Homo sapiens: one gene and its partner. The protein of the gene in region 2 interacts with the protein of the main gene of each other region in a pairwise test. Each region holds a gene or a part of one and is shown on either strand. Other genes may lie near its edges.

Evidence for each region. The genes of interacting proteins can lie anywhere in the genome.
Region 1: the proteins of SMOC1 (region 2) and VGLL3 interact in binary tests that used the Homo sapiens proteins (3 or more experiments, as listed by UniProt).

Annotation. Positions count from the first base shown.
Region 1 is NC_000003.12:86,977,650-86,981,149, forward strand, and holds part of VGLL3 (transcription cofactor vestigial-like protein 3), read right to left. Parts: intron 1,154-3,500; coding exon 877-1,153; intron 1-876. UniProt on the Homo sapiens protein: May act as a specific coactivator for the mammalian TEFs.
Region 2 is NC_000014.9:70,025,916-70,029,415, reverse strand, and holds part of SMOC1 (SPARC-related modular calcium-binding protein 1 isoform 1 precursor), read right to left. Parts: intron 1-3,500. UniProt on the Homo sapiens protein: Plays essential roles in both eye and limb development. Probable regulator of osteoblast differentiation.

The DNA.
Region 1 (3,500 bases), on a different chromosome or scaffold from region 2:
CAGGTCTGGGGTGGAGCCCAAGAATTCGCACTTCTAACAAGCTCCCATGTGGCACTGATGTTCCTGGTCAGGAAAATCACACCTCGAGAACCATTTTACTAGATCATTCCTATAACCAGGTGAATTTGGAAGAAATCACCACTGTAGCAAATTTCTCTGAAGCTGTCATTGGAATGACGTATTATGTTTTTATCTAACCCTGTAATTACCCTGATTTAGATGTCACCAATAATTTTCTATGAGTCAGAAATCAGTTTCAAACACATCTCTGTGAGCTCGATACAGAGAGAAATAAAGGAGTCCAATGTGCTGCTCTTTCTTTATCAAGGTAAAAACACTAGTTTAAGCCATGTGGATGCTGCCAAAATGCCTAGAGTGTATACTATAAAGAGTTAATACAATAACAAATCAGGATAAAGAAGCCTATTCAAAGAACACAGACAGCTTTCAATGTCTGTATTCCTGGGTCAGACTCAGGTCTCTGGTATGTCACCACATAGCACCTATTGGAATGAGCAAGAGCTAATTTTTTAAAAGCTGATTTAGACACGCCTATTATTTAGAGATCCAAATTGGGCCACTGGGGCTTTAGGAATGGTACTTCGCAGCTCAGTGCAGCCACTATAAACTCAAGCCGGTTGTATCACTACTTTCCATGAGGAATTTAAGGGGTGTGACTGCATCCTTTCCAACCCTACATTCCACATGTGACAAAACCGATCCAGCTGTTTGTCTGAAAGAAATTCCTCACTGTCCTTAAATATTAAAAAGCAAGTGGATATCCATCCTCAGGGGCAAGTCTCCAGCTGGAACCTGGTACAGGCAGTTGCGAAACAAAGACAGTGCCCTGGAGAACATCTGCTTTTGAATTCTTACCTCGCCATAGGGGGGTTAGCCCCATCTTGCTTTTTGAAATGGCAGATTCTGGATGGAGGGTGATGGCTTGGCCCAAAGCTCTTGAGAAGTGTTCATCCACTACTGACCCAATGTCTCCCTGGAAATAAGTGAAAAGGACACAGCGAGAGTTAAGGTACTCCATCTCGGCAGGCTGGTCTTTCTCCTCCTCCTCCTCCTCCTCATCCTCCTCCTCTTGTTTGCTGGGAAGGGTGACTTCCAGAGAGTCCTGCATCTTGCTGAATACCGCTAACTTCTTCTGGGATGGAATAAACAAAACACAGTATCAAAGACAGTTTGTAGAAAAGCATTCACTAGTTAAGTTTTCACTTTTTTAAAAAAAGAATCTAAATATTAACATATGTTTGCAAACTGATTCTTCTTCATCTGTTTTACTCCATCTTTTTCCTCCCCAAACCAGTTGCCTCCTTCCCACACTAAAAAAAATACAACAAAAACTCTGTGATTCTACATTTGGCAAACGAACATAAAAGCCCATTATCAAATAGTATATTTTCAATACAAGATTTTGTTTTTGCTTTTGTTTTTGTTTTGCTTTTTGTTTTTTCATCTAGCTAGGCCAACAGGAGAATTACTTTTTTAAAAAGTTTTTCTTCCCAGTTTTGGTTTATTTTTAAAAATGCAATGTACAGCAGTGTTATGGTTTAGGACAGAGAGGAATGACTGTCTGGGGGTGGAGTGGAGAAGAAAAGAACTTTTCATAAATAAAATAAACTAAAATAAAAACAGGAATGTAGCATCTTATAAAAGGATTTGGCAGATGTGCTGAACTCATGTCTTCAAAAATCAAACTAAAATGGCAAAATAAGTCTGTGTGAAGATGCATTTTGCATGGAACATATTTTTTAGATGTTCCGTTTACCACCATTATCATGAGGGGAAAAGATTTCATTATGGCTTAGTGAAAATATTACAAAATACTAGTAGTGGGTTAATCTTTCAATTAAAAATGAGAAAGATTTGTTAATTTAAAATGTTTAAAAATATAATTCTAATAATAATATACATTATTTCAGACATGTTTCTAAAACTTTATATTTATCACCTCACTTAATCTTTACAATTCTATAACATGGCTATTAATACTATCCATATTGTAAAGATTAAAAAGCTAAAGCACAGAAAAATTAAGTTACTTGCCAAAAGTCACAAATCATGTAAGCTGCAGAGTCAGAATGCATAAGAAAAACATACAGGTATAGACATGTGTGTGCATATATATGTTCTGAGGAATGGCAGGGAGGGATATCTAGCATATAGATATGCGTGTGCATACATTTGGTGGGGAAAGGCAGGGAGGGATATCTAGAGTAAAAAAATTACAAAAATGTATTTTGTATTGTTTTTCTGTGTAATACGTTTATAGTTAATTGTCATTTTCTTATTTCTGCTTTTCAGTATTTCCAAACATTTTTCACTGAGCACATATTCCATTTATTATCAACTTCAATGCGAATTACATATAAGGAGATAATGCTAAAGATATGAAATGTATTATTCTAGTGACGAAATGAGCTTTCTCTGTCATCTTTATGTCTGCAAAACCTGATCCTTGATCATACCTTTTTTTTTTTTTTACTTTGAAAAAAACGCATGCTGGAAAATGAATGTGAGTAGAAATAGATAAATCACTCCAGAATACCCAGTAATTTTTCAAATGTTAGCAAAATACATACCCCAGACTCTATATTTCTAATGTAATTACTAGCTTCAATATCTATAGCTTCAAATTATAAATGCACCATTCAATAAATTGGTCCCTTTCCCCTAGCAGTGAATATGTTGTTCTTGTATAAGGTGAGTACTGAAATATTCAGAAATACTATGAACTTCTAGTTATCGTTTCAGGATGGTTATTTATAAATATGTGTTTTGCTTTTATTTAAAATTCGTATCAGTATGGTTATGATTTGTTGATGAATAGATAATTCATACTTTGTAAGTGAATGTGCCTTGCTGATGAATAGATGATTGCTTTTATTTCTCATAATCTACCTCTGCACAGATTTGAACATGTTTATATTTAACTTCAATAGTATAAACACCATAGAAACATATGGTATGTGTAAAATGAGGGAATCGAACTAAATAACCTCTAAAACTATTCCTAGTTTTAAATTCCATTAAAAAATTAAATGAATATTATGATTTATTAGTCAAATCACAGTGCTGCTTCTTCGGGTGCATGTGTATTTACCTAAAACATGTATTGTTTTAACCATATGCACACACTCTCTGCTGAATATTCGGGCACATTAGAAAGCAGCTCTGTTTTTCTATGAAAAAAAAAAACCCTAAAACCTATCTACATGGTGGCATCATTGTCCACAAGTGTTCATTCTTATCCGTGAAACTAATTTCTTTTTTCTGTTAATGTCCAGCTCAGCATCAGTTTGTGAGAGTGGGGCTTTGCATATAAATGCTTTATTTGTTTAATTGTAACATTCATTCTTTAAATAGAAGAGCCTGGCTACATTAACAATCCAAATAAAGTCAAAGTTTTATTTTATCCTTAATTGACAGCAATTAATTCTTAGATGAAATAAAATTGAAGTTATATATATGTAAAGGATTTGAAGGCCATG
Region 2 (3,500 bases):
CAGCTATCCACTAAGAAGGGCTCTGGTGCTGATGTACCTGGACAGAACTGTCCCAGGTCTTGGTTCCCCGAGTCACAGAATGTCAGAGGTAGAAGGAATCCAGCAGCAGCTCAGAGCAGAGGGGCGACTTACACAAAGTCCCAGCCTCATTCTGCTGACACCCACATCTCCCCACAGGGTGCTGAGCCATTGTGGAAACTGCCACGCCTGCTCCAGCAGGTCCTGGCCTCTTGAAGAGGAGCGAGGAGCTGGGGGCAAGCACATCAAGAGCTGCCCCCCGCCACCACTCCGAGATGCTTAGGGCCACGTGACTCTGTGCATGCCCCTGAACCTCTCTGGGTCAGTCTACAGCCTGGGAGCTAGAACCACAGCTGTACGGCTTCTGCTCTGCCTCCCTCTCAGAATTGCCTTGAGGATCCACTGAATTCATGGAGGAGGAGAAAGGGCTTTGAGGAGTGTACAGCGCTGCAGAACCCAAGCCCACCCGCTGGTCATGTGAGCCACAGCTCCATGTCCCCTGGGTTATGCCAATATTCCTTACAACTGAAGAAAGGAGAGCGGACATGGGGTGGAGTGGGCGTGGGGTGGATATCGGTTTATCCAATTTTACAGAGGAGGACATGAACTCTAAAAGAAGGTGACAGCCCCAAGGCAGGCAGGTGGGAAGCGGCAGAGTCAGGCTGCTGACTTCAAATCCCACCTTTCCTCCACTCCCTCCAGCAGCTGCTTCTCTCCTTGCTGAGTAGAAAGGTCAGCACATCTAAAAAGGAGGTGCACAGCAGTCCTGCCCACCAGGCTGAGATGTGTGAAGCAAAATGGACAGCTAGCCGTAACCAGCTCTTTTTCATGGAGGCTTATGTGCTAATCCTGTTACCTAAGTCCTATCAGTTAATCCTCAGAGCGACTTTATTTGAGAGTGATAAAATTATCTCCATCTTAGGATGATGAAACTGAAGCTTGGAGATATCAAGTAACCCACCCAGGATGGCACAGCTTCCATGCGGCAAAGCAAATTCCGACCTAGCTAGCTGCCTCCAGAATCATGCTCTGAGCCATCAGGGAGGATGGAAGAGAAGAAGGCTGAGCCCCAGGCAGTTGGCATCCTCAGACAAGGCAAAAGAAGAGCGGATAGTTCTGAGAAAAGGAGGCACTAGACCCCACCCCGCCTGCCTCACAGGACAGTGACAATGATCCCAGTGAAGGTGCTTTATAAATTGGGAAAGTGAAGAAAGAGGCATGTTATGCAGAGAATTCAGCTCTCCAGGGAGGAGTCTGGTTGGTAAAATATCTGTGATCCAGTGGAATTTCCAAAAATTCAGTCCCTTGGACCCAAAACTCTACTGGTCCCCAAGCTCGGCATCCTTCCCCCAGCCAGCTTCTGTCCCCACCTAGCATGCAAGCCCCTCGCAGCCCACCAGGGGGCACCGCACGACACGGGATGGATGACCGACGCATAGGCTCTGCTCCCGGAGCCCCTGCACACCATTGACCACAGGGGCTTTTTTCTGCCGCCCTGCAGAGCAGAGGGATGGAGGGGGCAGTTCTGAAACTCATACCTTCTTTCCCGGACATGTTCCTCTACCGCTACCAATTTCTTTTGTGCCTTCGCTATGTACCAGGTACCGTGCTAAGTTCTTCACACACATTATCTGATTACATCCTCACCAAATCGTTGAGGTAGGTACTATAATCTCCACTTTGCAAATGGGGAAACGGAGGCTTAGAGAGTTTAGGTAACTTGCCAAGGATTAAAGATCCGGTAATTGTCAGAGCTGGGATTAAAATCAAGCCAGGCCCATCTGACTTCAGGGCCTCTGCACTTACTCCAGCCCCTACTTGTGCCTGATCATGGTATACCCACACTGCTCCTGGGCCTCTCAATAGTGGTCCGTCATCCCATAGGCACTGCCTGCCTGGAAACTGTGGGCTTCCCCACTCAGGTTGCTGGTGGCACCCTCACCCCCTGCAACACCTCTACTCCTGCCCACGCTGCCCCCAGGCTGGTCTGCTCCCCCTCTTCCCCAGACTCCCCCACTGGCCACTCCCTTGGCTTCACCAGGCAACCAAGACTGGCCTGCTCACACAAGGCGACATCTTCAAACACACTGGGGTCCTTCTCCTGGAGGGGACAGCAGTCTGGCCCAGGAATCCTGAGGCTGGGCCAAGCGCCAGCAGTGGTGGTACCTCACATGTACCCTTGAGCAAATCGCTACTCCTCTCTGGGCTAGCCTTGACTCCTAGACTGCAAAATGGACTAGAGGACCCACAGAGCCTTCTAGCTCTGGGCTGCTTGGGTCCAGAGCAGTGTGTCCTGTGGTGTGTGTTGAAATGGAGAGTGGGGACACAGGAATCCTTTCTGCCTCTGCATAGGCTTTAAGTCTACTCAGCCTCCACTTCACCCCACCCCATTGATTAATCCTACATACCCTCTTCCTCTTATCTCAATGTTCTACTCTCCCTCACTCCATCACACTCATACACACACATATGCAGACACATGCACAGACATACACAGACATATGCACAATGCATGCACACATGTGTATAGACATGCACACATAGCCATACTTAAAGACATAAGTGTAGACCATGTACAAACAGACACAGACATGAACACAGACAGGTGCACACTCAGGCCTACCCACAGAGACATGCACAAACAGACATGTGTATATACATTCAGAGACATGTCACAGACACGGGCTTTCTGGCCAGACTTTCCATAGTCCTACCTTTGAGGTGAGAGGTTCAAGAGGGTGTATTGGGCCAAGAAGAATGACAGTTGCACTCCAAAGCACCCTAGGGGCCTCTGTGGGCAAAGCTATGAGGATAACTGAAACTAACACTTGTCTGCAGCTGAGCCTGGATTGAGGAGGAACATCCAGATGACCAGGGATCCCTAAATCTACATTCTACTTCAGTTTTCTCTGGATGCTTCTGTCAGGTCCTGTATGTCAGCTGGGACTGGCAGACACCTGGTGCCTGGAAAGGCTTCAGAGGAAGGCTAGGAGGAGTCCCTGAGCTCGGTGGATCTGAGCTCACCACACTCAGCCATTGCTTGGCTTCCGTGTGCTGTGCAGACCAGAACTACTAGCACGGGAAGGGGGCCGAAGGCAGGGGCAGTACAGAGCATCATCGCTTAGCCCAGGAGTGCCCCTGGTATGCCTGGGGTCTACATTGACACTGGATGGTCTCTTCCCGACATTGGCCATCTGACTGTGCTCTGCGAAAGGACCACAAATTCCAAGCGTGTCAGAGCATAATGTCACCGGAAGGGGCAACCCCCCCATCCATTCATTCCTTCACTTATTCATTCATCTAACAAGGACTTAATGAATTACCAGGTGCCATGTACGGTGCTAGAGGTTAGGAATTGAGAGAGAGAATCCTTTTGGCTTCAAGGGGTAATCGGAAGAGTAAACTGCAACACAGTGTAAGTTCATCTTACAAAGAAGAATAGTAGTATTGAACTTCTATTGAGTTATTTCAATTTCTCAGGA